Linked DNA regions of Homo sapiens: region 1 is linked to region 2. Evidence: fine-mapped expression QTL. Tissue or cell type: putamen. Region 2 holds a variant in brackets; the other region holds the start of a gene. All regions are shown on one strand. Distances are from middle to middle.

What was found. PIP is the estimated chance that this variant, and not a neighbour inherited with it, causes the effect.
Region 1: it holds the start of CDC26, and the variant in region 2 is fine-mapped to the expression of CDC26 in putamen (GTEx, PIP 0.92).

The regions. Positions count from the first base shown.
Region 1 is chr9:113,271,706-113,279,812 of GRCh38, reverse strand. It overlaps CDC26 (cell division cycle 26), which reads left to right and starts at 4,241. Exons shown (of 4, transcript NM_139286.4): 1 at 4,241-4,431; 2 at 6,375-6,484; 3 at 7,265-7,386. The coding sequence starts at 7,306. PRPF4 (pre-mRNA splicing tri-snRNP complex factor PRPF4) reads right to left here and starts at 4,155. Exons shown (of 14, transcript NM_001244926.2): 1 at 4,043-4,155; 2 at 3,088-3,265; 3 at 682-868. The coding sequence starts at 4,069. RefSeq lists enhancers at 4,168-4,507, 4,275-5,130.
Region 2 is chr9:112,920,276-112,928,382 of GRCh38, reverse strand. No RefSeq gene overlaps it. Among named protein-coding and RNA genes, the nearest start is that of SLC46A2, 33 kb to the right of the region's middle. The variant G/A (reference allele first, on the strand shown) is at 3,254.

The sequences.
Region 1 (8,107 bases), 350 kb before region 2:
AATGCATTTGATGTCTCAATTTTCAAAGCCCAACAACAAATGTTTATCCAATTCAAAACTCGCACTGGGGAGGGGAGGCAAGGGAGCATGTTAGCACCCTCTTCCAAGTCTATAAAGAAAAACGGGCCAGGCACGAAGGCTCACGCTTGTAATCCCAGCACTTTGGGAGGCCAAGGTGGGTAAATCATTTGAGGTTAGGAGTTCAAGACCAGCCTGGCCAACATGGTGAAACCCTGTCTCTACTAAAAATACAAAAATATAAAAAATAACTAAAAATACAAAAAAGAAAAATGTGGTGGCAGGTGCCTGTAATCCCAGCCACTTGGGAGGCTGAGGCAGGAAAATCGCTTGAACCCGGGAGGCGGAGGCTGCAGTGAGCCGAGATCACGACGCTGCACTCAAGCCTGGGTGACAGAGCAAGACTCTGTCTCAAAACACAAAACAAAACAAAACAAAACAAAACAAAACAAAACAAAAACGAACAAACACAAAAAAGAAACATTAATAGTGCGGTAAAAATTGGCCTAAGACAGATTATGGGCTAACTCATATAAACACAGTAAGATATTGTTAACATGATTTGAGACATTCTATTAAAGTTCAACTAAATGATCAACCAAAATTTGGAGTAGAACCCTGTGATTATAATAAAGAAAAAAAGTAAATATTTAGAAAGGCAACCTTTCTCTTCTTTCAGCAGGACCCTCTCCAAAAAGTGTGATGGGTTCCCCCAAGGCTCTAAGGCAAGCTTTGACCTCTGAGTCATCTGTGGAAACATTGATCTGCCGGGCTCGCTTCCTTCTCTCAAACTCAGCCAATACTTCTGCCTGTCGCTCGCTGATATGCTCTTCAATTTCAAACACTTCTCCTATTAAAAAGAAAACAGGCAACATCAGCAGATCTTCTTCAAATAGAGAGAAATAATTTCTAGTAATTGCAGTCTGTGTATGCCCTGAGGGAAAAGTAACTGTCTATTACACATTTTATAGTTTACTGTTTTTCAGTTTATTAAATTATGCCAAACACATAAACCTAAATGACACAGCTTCAAAAGGCAAGAAAATGGTTCAAGCCACCTCTTGTTTCATTTATTAACTTTGTGCCTATATAAACACACACTTTGGCTGAGACCAGCAAGTAAGAGTACAGAACATCTTTTGCAAATGAGTTAACTAGGCTGTCTATCCAGAAGATGTAACAGAAACATTATTGTAACAACAGCCAAAGCTATTTATTCTCGAAAGGAGACCCAGTATAGGGATACTTAACAAATCATTAACTACTAAACTGCAAATAATTACCAGGAAAATGAGAGTTCCACAACTATAAGGATTTCTGGATAATCTAGCAATAGTTTTGAAACCCACACCAAAATACAAGTGTGATAAAAAATGAGAGGTACAGTGGTGACGTTATGTTTAAAAACAGTATTAAAAGTTTAAAAAGTCACTAGGCTACAGTGCATGTGTTTAGAAAATGTGTGGGAGGATCAATAAGAAACCTGACAGATGTCCCTACTGCAGAGGAGTCTTCATTTTATGCCCTTTGGCATTGTCTGAATTTCTTAGGACAAATATGCATAATTTTATTTTTAAAATATAGTAGACCTCTCATTACTGACATGGAAAGATATCCTCAATGGTATATAAATGAAAAATGGGGGTTATACAACAATTTACGTATTGTGTTTTCATTTATGGAAAAAATTACATACTTTTTAGCTGTATTAAAATTCTCAGAAAGATATACAATCAATTAATTTTAAAAATACAGGATTTTCTACTTCACACATTTATACATTGATCTTTTAAAAGAAAATAACTTTTTTTTTTGAGACAGGGTCTCGCTCTGTTGTTCAGGCTGGAGTGCAGTGGCACAGTCATGACTCACTGCAGCCTTGAACCCCCACCTCAGAACCCCAATTAGCTGGGAATACAGGCACGTGTCACCATGCCCAGCTAATTTTCTACTTTTTGTAGAGATGGGGTATCACTATTTGCCCAGGCTGGTCTTGGATTCCTGGGCTCAAGCCAGACTCCCGCTTCTCAGCCTCCCAAAGTGCTGGGATTACAGGTGTGAGCCACCAGGCTTGGCCACTATTACTTTTATAATAAAAAAAGATAGCTCAGTCAGGTGCAGTGGCTCACGCCTGTAATCCCAGCACTTTGGGAGGCCGAGGTGGGCGGATCATTTGAGGTCAGGAGTTGGAGACCAGCCTGGGCAACATGGTGAAACCCAGTCTCTACTAAAAATACAAAAATTAGCTGGGTGTGGTGGCGGGCACCTGTAATCTCAGCTAATCGGGAGGCTGAGGCAGGAGAATCCCTTGAACACAAAAGGCAGAGGTTGCAGTGAGCCAAGGTTACGCCACTGCATTCCAGCCTGGGCAAGAGAGTGAGACCCTGTCACACACACACACACACACAAAAAGATTTCACTTTGGGTAAAAAATAATTACAAAACTTCAAAAGGGAGAATATCATGAACCACTCTAGCTGCAAACCAATGCCAGAACTATGTTAGATCTCCAGAAGACAAATGGAATCAATCTGAATCCAAATGTACACTGAATTTTTGATAAGACTGCTCACTCATAGAAGAAAAACTATATAACAGATTGTAAGAAAAAGGCTCTCTGCATGATAATAAGGGGGTAGGCAAAATACAGCCTTATAGCTGCAAGTTTAAGAATTGAAATTCTGCCGGGCACAGTGGCTCACACCTGTAATCCCAGCACTTTAGGAGGACGAGGCGGGCGGATCACAAGGTCAGGAGTTTGAGACCAGCCAGACCAACATGGTGAAACCCCATATCTACTAAATATACAAAAATTAGCCGGGCGTGGTGGTGTGCGCCTGTAATCCCAGCTACTCGGGAGGCTGAAGCAGGAGAACTGCTTGAACCCGGGAGGCGGAGGTTGCAGTGAGCCAAGATCGCACCACTGCACTCCAGCCTGGCGACAGAGCGAGACTCTGTTTAAAAAAAAAAAAATTGTAATTTTTTGACATTATAAAACTGTGGTATTTAAGTTTAGAAAGGTATTCATTACACAAAGAGGTAAAGATGGGCTCACAATTTGCATCTTACCAGAGGTTATATTAATATTTCCAGCTTCGATCCCTGCTTTAAGTCCGTCTTTCCCCAAAATCCCAGACTCTCCTTTGGCCAGACGCTCCCTCTCCTTCTCTTCCAAACTTCCATAATAGATGTGTGGTTTCTTCACGACCGGAGCAACTAAGTCGTCGGGTGCTTTAGTTTTGGTTGCCTGCTAAATCAAAGATCTGCATTAAACTAAGGTTTAATCTTGGCAATTTACCGGACTTCACCAGAGGATGAAGCTCACCCTGAGTTTCACAGTCCTGTTTCCTCTGTAATTGAAAGGACAAATTGGACACTACTTAAGACGCTCTTCATTGATTTGAGGAGGTGAAGGTAGGGTGAGGGTGTTTCAGTCCCTCACTTTGGTTGATGGGATTAATAAAACTAGTGAGGTTCTCTCGGGTATTTTCCTATGAAAGGTTTGCTCTGAAATCTGTTTACTTCATTCCGTTGGAAGTGTTCAATCTCGTGTTTTATGCTTCCCGGATTACTGCTTATCACTGGGGAAATACTAAGGATAGATGAAATAACCAACGCGGTGCTAAAGGATAACAAGTTACAACATTACAAGTGTATACATTTCAAACGTTCCTAGACGTGAGGTAGTAGGAGTTAGTAGGTCTCATTAAAATTCTGAGATCTGCCAAAGGCATAAACCTTGGCCAAGACACTTCCCTATTTCAGAGCACCGTTACTGGATGAGTCGGAAGAGATGCTTGCCCTTTGGGGCTGTAGTGGGAGAGGTGCAAATAAGCTACAGTCCACGAAAGCGCTTAGGGATCAGGAAAACGGTGGTCCGCTGTGTAGGACACCGCTGAGTCCCGCAGCCTTCCTCCTCAGCCCTCCACCGCCTTCTCCCGCTCCTTAACGGCCCCTTCCCGCAGAGATCCCCTTCCCCCTTAGCGCTCCCTGCCAGAGTGAGCTGGGATCCCGGGCTCTGTACCGTGGAAGAGGCTCGCGAGGAAGCCATGCTGGGCTCTGGAGCCGCGAGGCCCCAGCGAAACCCGAACACTCCCTTTCAGACCGTCCACCGCGCGCCCAGCAGAGGGGAAGTGCGTCACTGACAGGAAGTGCGTCACTGACAAGACGTGGGCCAAGAGGGGTCACCGCCCCCGGAGCGGCGCGGAGCATGATGGAAGTCGTAGTAGGAAATGGCGTCGTGGCATTGAGGGGCATCCCTCCTAGAACCTCCAGGAAAAGCTCGCGGAAGACGAGGTTCTGCGGAGAGAGAGGCTCCAAGCAGTCTGGGAAGTGTAGTCCAGTTGGCTTAGCAGTAGTTTCGTTGGGGGGGAGCCGAGGTTCCGGGAAGGGGCTAGGCCGGCTTGAAAAGAGGTAGGTGAGTCGACTCGCGCGGCTCGGGGCTGAACTCTGGAGCGAGTCAAGGGCTTCCGGGGTCCGCTGTGCCCCCCGGGCGTACGGGGGCGTTTACGTCTTCTTGGAGCCGAGGACCATGTTACCATAGAAACCCTTGCCTGGGCTCCGAGGTACAGGCCTGGAGCTAGGGGACGAGGACTGTTCTCCTCCATGGTCCGGAAGTCTTCCCAGGCTCCCCCTCTGAGCTTGATGGCTCGGCGGTGGATTTGGGCTGCGGCGGGAGATTAAGCTAGAAGAGCCCGCTAGTGCCAAAGTCAAATAAAGACCCGGCGGAGGAGCTTCGGCCTGATTTTGTTGATTTGTCTTCAGCCTGGTCTTTGTATCAGATTGAGAGTAAGATGATGGATAGGAAGGTGTCAGGTAACTCTGTACGTCTCTCTGCCCTGCTGGATGCTGGGGCATTAGAGACGAACAGGATAAGGTTTTTATCCCCACATGGGCGGTGGGAGATCCTCAAAATATTGACGTTTCCCTAGCTGGCCAGATCCTCATGCAACCCCCTAGAACAATTACAGCAATAATAGATGTTATTTATTGAACATTTATTAAATGCCAAATAATATTCCAAGAGCTTACTCTGTATTACGTTATTGACTTCCTACAACAGCAGAGTAGGATACAGATGAGGGAACTAAGGTCTAGTGAGAAATGAAACGAATTGTTCAGGATCGGTGGTGTAGTGGGATTAAAACCTGTGCCCTTTAACCTCTACAGCCAGCACTTTTAACTGTTAATCTATACTGCTCCCTAGTGGCCAGTTTTTTGCAGTTTGCAGAAAAGGTAAAATGTATAGATTTTTTTTTCCCCCTTTTAGGTATCCCTATCCCTCTCTTTCCCTCTTTGGAACTTTGGCTTTCTCTACCATTTGTCTGCATTGGAATCTGGTAGAAGATAATGCCTGATTTAGTACAAAGGAATTTGAAATGTAATGTGCCAGTGTTTTGTGTTGATAATATCACCTGTAGTATCCTAAGCTTCATGGGAGAAGGAACTATTTCTTCCTTTGTATACTTCACAGTCCTTAGTTTCATCCTAGATACGTGTAATAATTTGTATCTGTACATACTTTCAAGGAGTTTTCACTTCCATCATTTTCACTTAATGCTTATCATGTTGACCTTTATAATTTTTATAGGAGGCTAAAATTATTAACCAAACTGAACAGCTTGCTTCGATGACTTCTTTATGTGTGAAATAGGAATCATTTTGTCAACTTCACAGGGTTTTTGTGTTAAAATAAGAATGTAAAGAATGGGAATGGAAAAACAGCACGGTGCTCAAGAATGATCTCACCTTCTAGTCAACAAACATTTACTGACTGTTTTTATAGATACACTCTAGGGGATGCTGTGGAGAATATACAAATGATGCCATCAACAGATATTAAACTCAGTTGGGGGGTTGTGTTTTCTCAAAAACAAAACAAAACAAAATGGTTTTTGTTAACATAGTATTACCTTGGGATTTCAGGCTGTGGAATGCTCTCTTGAGCCTTTTTTTTTTTTTTTTTTTTTTTTTGAGTTGGGGTCTCATGGTGAGGTCATGGCTCACGGTGGCAACCTGAAACTCCTGGGCTCAAGTGATCCTTCCACCTCAGCCTCCTGAGTAGCTAGGACTACAGGTACACACTACCAGCCCAGCTATTTTTTTTACTTTTTTGTAGAGACAGGGTCTTGCTACGTTACCAAAGCTGTACTTGAGCCTCCTTGTGCATTCTTCTCTCTGCCTGACCTTCAGAAGTCAACTAAGACATCATTTTCTCCAGGAAGGCTTGCCTGACATCCTTGTCCACCCCACACTCAGCCCAGACTGGATTAGGTGCCTGTGTGATGCCAGTGCTAGTATCCTCATCAGGGTTCTCATTACATGATATCACAGTTTTCTCTTTGTTTTCCCCACAGATTATGACTGTACCTTTTAACTTTGTAGCTGGAACACAAGAAGTGTTTGTTTAATGAATGACGTACACATTTAAGATCTGTTTGGACGCGGAGGATAATCCTGTGAATTGGTGAGTTGGAGTTTTCCTGAGATTTAGCAAACTGATTTTAGCATTCAAGAGTGATCACAAATCTCTGACAATTCTCATGTAGGGTAGATTAAATTCACTGGTTTGTCCACTTTTTCCTCTAACTATACTAAGATGTGATAGTTTATTCTTTTAGCTAGAGTAGTTCTTTGAATGTGACTGGAACATGAGATTAAAGTGATGGTTGCCTAGAATTTCTCTCTTATAGGCAGTTTGCTATTTTAAATTCTTACAGAAAGAGTTTTTGATTTTATAGAGCTGTAGATCTCCATAATGTAACAAAAATGTAATAATCACATACCTAAAGACTTTAGAAGTTGGCTGGGTACAGTAGCTCTTGCCTATAATGCCAGCACTTTGGGAAAATGAGGAGGGAGGAACACTTGAGCCCAAGAGTTTGAGACCAGCCTGGGCATCAGAGAGAGATCCCATTTCTACAAAAAACACAAAAATTAGCCAGGTATGGCGGTGTACGCCTGTAGTCCCAGCTACTCTGGAGGCTGAGGCAGTAAGATTGCTTGAGTCCAGGAAGTTGAGGCTGTAGTGAGCTAAGGTCATGCCACTGCACTCCAGCCTGGGCAAAGAGCAAGATCCTATCTCTTAAAAAAAAAAAAAAAAAGACTTTAGAAGTCTATGTGTAAATTCAAATAAATTTTTAATATTTCCATTCACTTTAGTATACATGCTTGCAAATTGATTTTATGTTTTGTATCTGAGACTTTATCACCTTCAGATTTTCCTCCTCTCTTTCATTTTTAACAGCTAATAGTTCACTGGGTTTGGCCCTTAGTGTTGACTTCAGTATGCTGAGACGGAAACCAACACGCCTAGAGCTAAAGCTTGATGACATTGAAGAGTTTGAGAACATTCGAAAGGACCTGGAGGTATGAATACAACTTTGTGTTTTTTTGAGATGGAGTCTCGCTCTGTCACACAGGCTGGAGTACAGTGGCATGATCTTGGCCCACTGCAACCTCTGCCTCCTCTGCCTCAGCCTCCCGCGTGCTGGGACCACAGGTTCATGCCAGCACGCCCAGCTCATTTTTTTATTTTTAGTAGAGTTGGGGTTTTGCCATGTTGGGGCCAGGCTAGTCTCAACTCCTGACCTCAAGTGATCCATCCACCTCAGCCTCCCAAAGTGCTGGGATTACACGCGTGAGCCACTGCACCCAGCCATGAATACAACTTTCAAAGCTTAAGGAATATTTAAGATAATAATTCTTGTGTGGGCACAGTGGCTTACATCTGTAATGCCAGCATTTTCTGGCCAGGAGTTTGAGACCAGCCTGGGCAACATAGTGAGACCTTGTCTCTATGTTGGGCAGGGTGGCGCATGCCTGAGCTACTCAGGAGGCGGAGGCGGGAGGATTGCTTGAGCCCAGGAGTTTGAGGTTACAGTGTGCTATGATGGCTCCACTGTACTCCACACTGGGCAACAGTGAGACTCTCTGTCATACATAAATATGTATATACACACACATACATACACAATAACTTTAACTTCTGAACTGCAGACTCTTAAGCCAACAGCTTATTTGAAATCTCTGTTTGGATGCTTTACAGGCATCTCAAACTTCATGTATGTCTCCTGTGGCTGCTGTAACA
Region 2 (8,107 bases):
CAGTGTTTTCAAATTTTAATTGAATTCTTGCAAGATGAATGGTCCCCACAATCAAGCATCACCATCCTCAAGTCTTCTACCCACCCCCAACCTCTCAAAAAACAGCTTTTCCCTGAAAAATCAACCATTTAACCCATATTTTCCTGAACATTTCTTGCATGTGCTCTTTGCACTTCCAAAATTATTTTCATCTTAGTAAAATCTCTTAGAACAATAAATGAAAATGGATAAGATCATAAGCATAATGGAATTTTTAACCCAGAAAAGGACATATCAGATAAACAAATAATGAGAATATAGAAAATTTAAATAGCCATTATTAATAATCCAAATATAATAGAAAGTGGGGGGACTGTAAAAAGAATGTAAATTCACTAGAAGAAACTGGGGATCTTTGACAAAATGGCTGATCTCTGGGGCAGGACATATCCAAGGTAATCCTGGGATGCCTTGCTGTGCTAAAAAGCAAAAGACAAACCATAAAAACCACTAAGGCCTTGTCAATAAGCACTCAGAAACCAACTTGAGGAGGTTCCCTCTGGCTTAAAATGGGACAATTCAAGCACCAGTGTCATGGACTACAATGGACTGAAGCACAAAACATGAGCTTATAATGATAGTTAAAAGAAATTTTTAAACCCCATTGATCATCCCGGGAGGGTGCTAGGACAACTCAACACTATGAAAAACAACAAAGAAAGGGGAAAAATCAAATATGTATCTGCCTTTCCGTACAATCTGTATTTCAGAGCTGATGAGGTTAATTTCTATTTACAGAAACATTCCAGCAAATAAATAAGGAAGAAATAATAGGATTTAAAAATTGACATTTGCAGCTCCTGTATCTAGGCAACAACCATCAAGGGATGCTAGACCATTAGGAGAAAAGTTGATTGCAACTTTATAGTGGGTGGAATAGATGGTCAACTGTAAACCTCCTAATTAGTCTTGACATCGCTCAAAGTGGAACCAACAGACACAAGCTTCCTAATGCAAGGCAGCCGAAACCAGTCAGCACCAGCTGTGAGGGCTTCACACCTAAAAAAGAATTGAGCCTGAATCTCATCAAACCTCTTGATCTAACTAACCATTTCAGGAAATGTGGGAGCCAGAGGAAAAACCCAGCAAATTTGGAATGTCATGTTGAACAGTCTACAGTGCAAATACCCCAGTTCTCCATGAAAGAAATGGGATAGAAGGGTGGGAAATTTTTTAAGAACTTGGAGACTTAAGAAACAATGAAATGCCATGAATGGACTTTGGATTCAGATAATTCAACTAACATGCTTCTTTTGAAACAACAGATACATTTGAATATCACCTAATAAAGGGAATTATGTTGACTTTTGTCAGGTGTACTAATGATGAGGTGTTTTTACATACTGAAGTATTTCTGAATAAAATGACACGATGTCTGGTTCTTGATTCATACTACTCTGGTTAGTATTTTTAAACATGGGGCAAGAATAGATGTATTGAGATTGTCTTGGTTGGGCGCAGTGACTCACACCTGTAATCCCAGCACTTTGGGAGGCTGAGGCGGGCGGATCTCTTGAGGTCAGGAGTTTGAGACCAGTTTGGCCAACATGGTGAAACCCCATCTCTACTAAAAATACAAAAAATTAACCAGGCATGGTGGAATGCGCCTGTAATCCCCACTACTCAGGAGCCTGAGGAAGGAGAATCACTTGAACTGGAAGGCAGAGGTTGCAGTGAGCTGAGATCAGGCCACTGCACTCCAGCCTGGGCCACAGAGCGAGACTCCATCTCAAAAAAAAAAAAAAGAAAAAAAAGATTGTCAAATGTTAATTACTGAAGCTGGATGGTGTGCCCAGAGAGGGTTGGTGAATTATTCTTTATGCTTTTATTTGCAACTGGGCCGGAGGGTAGTGGGGTGGGGGACAAATCCGTCTTCAAATGTAGGCTAGCCATTTGCAGCTGAAATCCTTTTAGTGTTGCCTGGGCAACTCCAGATGACTCTTCCAACCATGTGTGGATGATCTGCTCATAAGAACTTCATTATTGCTTTGAAATACTGAATATAAAAAAGTTCCATTGGATTTGAAATGAATTTACCACAAAATTTCAACTTTACATTTGTCAATGAAAGAAAATAAGTGATGTTAACTGTAATTTTAACTTTTAGAAAATCTCAAAGGTTGTGAAGAAAAATGGTTAAACACTTGGTCACCTACTGATGCAGAGTTTCACTGATGAGCGCTATCAAGAATTTGAAGAGGTTTTTACTTAAAACTCTTAATCATAAATTTCACGGCAGTATTTCCAGCATAAAAACTGATAGTAGAAAGCTGAAGTTTTTTCATTTGAAAAAAAAAAAAAACTTAGAGTGTCTTTGGAAATTTCCTGTAAATCGAATCTTTAATATATTTTCTAATATGTGCATTTTATATTTATTATAATTATATAATGAAAAATAAGTCCCACATGATGCCCCTAAAGCTCCTCTAGCACACCACAGTGCATCATGTCAATATTATCACTTTCTATGTATGCTAATAATCTGAAAAATACTGGGAAGCTGGGAAGCACCGCTATAGATTCACTAAACAAATAATACAAAGCTTTGCATTCTTTAAAATTGAAGGTTATGTTCCAGGAAGATTAAACAGCAACTTTATAATGAACAGTCCAAGGAGAAATTTAGAAAGTGATTTACCTCCAAGAAGTAAAACCCGCTGACATGTAAATATCTTTAAAAAGAAGAAGAAAACACCGTTCCTCCTCAAAGCTGGTCTTATTTCTATGCTCCTCAGTTTACAATGGCAGCCATTTTCCCTCCCTTCCTGGGGAAAATAACAACCAGCCCATTATGGTGAATTCTCACAGTGACTAAGGTGGTCCTTCCCTGTGGTGTGAGCACTGTGAAGTTAGGTGTCTAGCATAATCCTGTGAGTTTTTATTTTGACATGTTTGAGCCACTTAAGGATAAATTACAGAGCACTGTGTATCAAGATGACAAAGACAGTCTCAAATTCATTAAAGTGTTGTGGAGGGCAGCGGGTACTTGAAAATTCTAAACAGGATTTGTCGACACGAATATTTTTCAAGAGATTACACAGGTCACTCGATATGGCAGAAGGGAAAACATGCTTTACAATGGTGACATCTGGCGGTCACCATCCAAATCAAATGATTAAGCATCATCAATAGTGGGGCAATCTGACATTGTGTCTCCTTATGTGATACAAAATGACTCCCACCGCATCGCCTACGACACATTCTTGCTAAAAAT[G/A]TAAACTTGAACTTAAGCCTTTAGCCCTAGTCTCCAATTTAGAGGAAATTCAAGGGATACAGAAACAGGTTAAAAAACACTGTGAGAAAATTATCAAACAAATCCAGAAGGTGGGGTGTTTAAAAAGATAATTGTCTCTTTAAAAAGTCAGTATCATAGAAGCAAAAGTCAGGGGTGTAGAAAAACGTGGGAGCACTGTTCCCAGGGCACTGTTGATCACTGATCTATCACCTGAAGTTTCTATAAACGAAAATAGAACTGCATATTTTGGTAGATGAAGTGAAGAAGTGTAAGTTGTCTTTTCTTTCATTGCTTCTCCCAGTAACTTCAGCCAGAAGCAGCCTCTCCAAGGTTTAAAAATGGTCAACTTCTCTTTGATTTAATATCTCCATCTATAAGATTATTACAGTCGTCCCATAATTTGGAAAAGATTGAGAAGAGCTGATTGCAACAGTAACACAGTGCTCCTAAGGGTATAGTTCTGAATGGTCACCCTCCCTTCCTTCCCCTGATCGCAGGCAATCTCCAGGTTTCCATGGGCCCCAGAAGAGCAGGGAATCAGATCTGGTTCCAGTGGCCATCACCTCACAAACAAAACAATTGTCTCCATTCCTTCCCGGAAACCCACTCCACTTTTTCCTTTAAGCCCTCAAAACAGAGCCAGACTGTTTTCCCTTTCCCCAGACAATGGGGCTACTCACTTGTCCCCCTCCCCAAAAGGAGGCTACACTCAGGGACTCCAGGGGAACCCCTGTCTTACCTTCTAAGGAAGGATACCCTAAGTAATTTTTCTAAGGGACCTACTCTTTCTTAGGGAGCTTCTTCAGAAGCTACCTCTAATAAATACAAGGAGTGGAATGATTGGTTCATTGTAACAGAAGATTGGTGGGGGAAGAGGACCTACAAACTTAATCTCTAGTAATACATCATCTCTGGTAGGATACACCACTATATCTTATTCTGAAACATGATTTTTATTTAACCTAAAAAATAATATGAATTCACACCTTCTAAGTCAGCAAACCTCAGAAGGGAAAAAATAGAAAATAACAAGTGTTGGTGAGGATACAGAGAAAGTGAAACTCTTGCACATTGCTGCTGTGAATGTACAATGGTGAAGTCGAGGTGAAAAACAATTTGGCAATTCCCCCAAAAGCCCCAACATAGAATTTCTGCACAACCCAGAAATTCTACTCCAGGGTATACACCCCAAAGAGTTAAAACAGGAAATCATACAAATATTGGTCCACTCATGTTCATTACAGCATTGTTCACAGCAGCCAAAATGTGGAAACAACCCAAGTGTCCATGAACAGATGAATGGATAAATAAAATGAGGTACAAGCACACAATGAAATGGATTCAGCCCTAAAAAGGAGTAAAGTTCTGACCATACTCAACATGGACAGACCTTGAAAACATTATGTTAAATGAAATAAGCTAGATACAATAGGACAACTTAATTTTTTTGAACCCATACATATTTATTGATAATCTATCTTAACCATGACCCAAGTTAATGGACAATACAAGAGGTTTGCATGTAACCCAGAAGTTTGCAAGTTACAAACTATAGAACAATCATTTGACATAAGACTCAAAGTCTGTCCTTCAGCTCCAGACCCCCAAACCTCATCCCAGCCCTTCTTTCCAAGACAGGGTGGTCAACCACTTGCTAGGCCTCTAGTGATTATTTGCTTCCTTTGTATGTGTTTTCTCCTGATTAAAACAGAAACATTAAATCATGATTCTTGTGATTTGTGTCCACATTTCCAGAGCAGCTGATGCTGGTGCGCTAACAGCTCAACCTTCACCCAGCCCTCAACTCAACTTGGCCAGATTCCAACTAGGGGCTTGACTCACCTCATTTTTTGGTAACAAAAAATGTGAAATAGTCTACAGTTTTTCAGTTTCTTCCCTGTTTTTTCTAAAGGGGATCTTACTTACCAAAATTCATTTTCCTAGTTTTTAAGCTTATTTTCTTCTGTAACTACGCTTTCTTCTTTCAAAACAGTATATTTCCATTTGATCAAAACTAGCAATAGGACAGTTTATATAAAATATCTAGAATAGACAAATTCAGAGAGATGGAAAGTAGATTAAAGCTTACCAGAGACTGGTGATAGAGGGAGGAAATGGGAAGTTATTGCTTTATGGTCATAGAGTTTCTATTTGAGGTGATGAAAAAGAGTTTTGGGAACAGAGGTAATGGTTGCACAATATTGTAAATGTAATTAATGCCAATGAATTGTACACTTAAAATGGTTAAAATGGCAAATTTTATGTTAAATACGCTTTTACCACAATAAAAATTTTCAAAAAAAAAGTGAAAAGATAGCCAGCATATATTGTTAACAGTTTTATAGTGTTCCATTGTAGAGCAGTACTATTATCAGTCAGCTGTTAGAAGTTTGCAATATTTGCTCTTTTATAAAAAATGAACACCCTTGTACATATAACACATATACAGCTTTATGTACTTGAATGAACAGTTCTGTAGAATACATTCCTAGGAGTAGAAGTAGGTATTAAAGAGTATGGACTTCACAGAAAACTTAGGTGTGTGTACACACACACACACAAATGCAAAATTTGGGCCTCCAAAGGGGCCATCAGTTTAAACTCCTGCAGCTGCTGTATGAGTGATCATGGCTTCATTGTAGCCAGTGGGCTATTGGCCACCTTTTTATTCTTTGCCATTCTGATTTTCTCCCATCTTATGATAATTGTAACTTTTATGTCTTTAATTATTAGGGAAATTTAACATCAACATTGGCCTAGGCCAATTGGTCTTGAATGGATGTTGAGTAATAAGTACAAAATTCCTGAAGAGTCAAATTCCTGTCAAAGGAAATAGTCGGACATGGAAAGTGGCCACAAGCTCTATGGACATCAGCAGAGGAGACTCCAGATCCAGGGTTAGGAGTGGTCAACAGAGAAACTTGTGTGAAGGCCTCCATCTCTCCACATCCAAGGTCGACACTGGTGTGAGGGAGGTGGAGATGGTATAGAAGTTTCCTTTCTCAGAGATCCCATCCTGCCACTCAAAGATCACTGGTGGCAGGACCCTTGTAAGTCTCTGGGGTAACATTTTGGACAAAGCAAGCTTAGGGGAGAATGAGATCATGATTGCCTCTTACACGGACAGTCAATAAAGGAAGGCACATTCTCCATTATTTGTTGGCATTCAAAACATGGAGAAACCTATTCTTAATGCTTTCCCAACCTACACTAAGTGAAGCCATGGGACAAGATTCTCTGTATAAGACTCCCGTAATGACCACACTATCTGGCCAAACTGTTGTCATTTCCCTTTGAGCTCTAGCACCTTGAGATAACATGCTGTGGCTTTAGATATCAAGGGCTGAGTGATCTAAACCCTCAGGCTGACTTGTAGGACAAGAGAAACCTAGCATTCTAAAAACGTATGCTGGTGACTCTGAGGCTCTTACTGACATCTGCTGTCTGGATAGCAGATCTGCAGGCTGTGACTCCCTGAAAAGTCCTTCCTCTGTGTAGTGAAAGAGGACCTCCTTTCAATCCGTGAGCCAGTTATGAATCTCATCATGATACAGGATGAAATAAATTTGGATCATCTTGGAGATGAGTCTTAGCCTCCTGTAAATGAGAACCTCCCTCGGCTTCCACAAGTGTTAGATTTCCATCCTCCATTTATGCTTTGAACCTAAAGCAGAGTATGCAATTCATCTGATAGCATCTGAGGCTTTGGTGTGTGTTTGGGGGAGGGGAAGAGAGATAAGGATAGACAGCTATGGTTGCAGGATGCTTTCTGTTTTGATCAGTCTTCTACCATCATTACCAACATTTTCTGGGAAAGAAGGAAGGACTGATGATTGAGTCTAGACATTTAGACGGTCCGGGTTGATTCATGGCCATTGAAGTTTAATAAGGGCCCTCCTTTGCTATAGTAGGAGGTTTTTAATCTAGGTGTTTAAGGTGGAAGTCTTGGCATAACAGCAAGCAAAAGAACAGACTCTTTTCTGAACTTTGTGAAAGTTATGGTCTTCTCTTGCAGAAGACATACAACTCTAATTGTTGTTTGCTACATCATCCTAAGGCTCAATAATGCTCCTGAGCTACTGTCTCTAACTTTACAATCTCATTAGACATCCTTCCTGAATGATGCATGTATAGTAAAGGGACAAGTCAGCAACAAGCAAAAATTCCTTGAATGAAATCTTGCAAGGCTGACTCTTGGGGCTAGAAGTCAAGTATTTCAACTTAAGTGAGTGTGGCTCTTCCTCAATGGACTAACTCCTCATTTTATTATTGGGAAAATGGCACAGTCTCTCAGGTCTCATAGCTCAGATATTCCAAACATTCAATTGTCCTAAATCCAATGCAATTGGTTTTCAGCTTATATATCTAGTTGTGTTTCAATAGCTCCTTTGAGTTTTTGGAGGTTAGATTCCAGTTCCTCTTTATATCCTAAACAGTAAGTCAACAATTAAGGGGGTAGATACTTCCAATTGTATCTGAGTTACTGGAAGAAGGAAGAAAGATCCAGGCCTTTGTCTCTGGAAATTTCTGAACGCATGCCAGACCTCTACAATCCAGAAAGAAGTACACACACACACACACACACGTGCACACTTACACACACACACACACATCCCAAGATAACAATAAACCCTTGGTTCAATGCAATCTTCCTTTGAAAAGGACACCATAGTTATATGTGAAAAGTCCCCTTATTCCAGGTTGGGGTATAAGAAATGACTTCCCACAGAGGTGACCCAGAGCCCAACATTCAAACCCTCCATCTGCGGATTAACAAGGATTATGGTCTTTCCTCCCCTGGGTCCCTCTTCTATCAATGTTTAAGAACCCTAG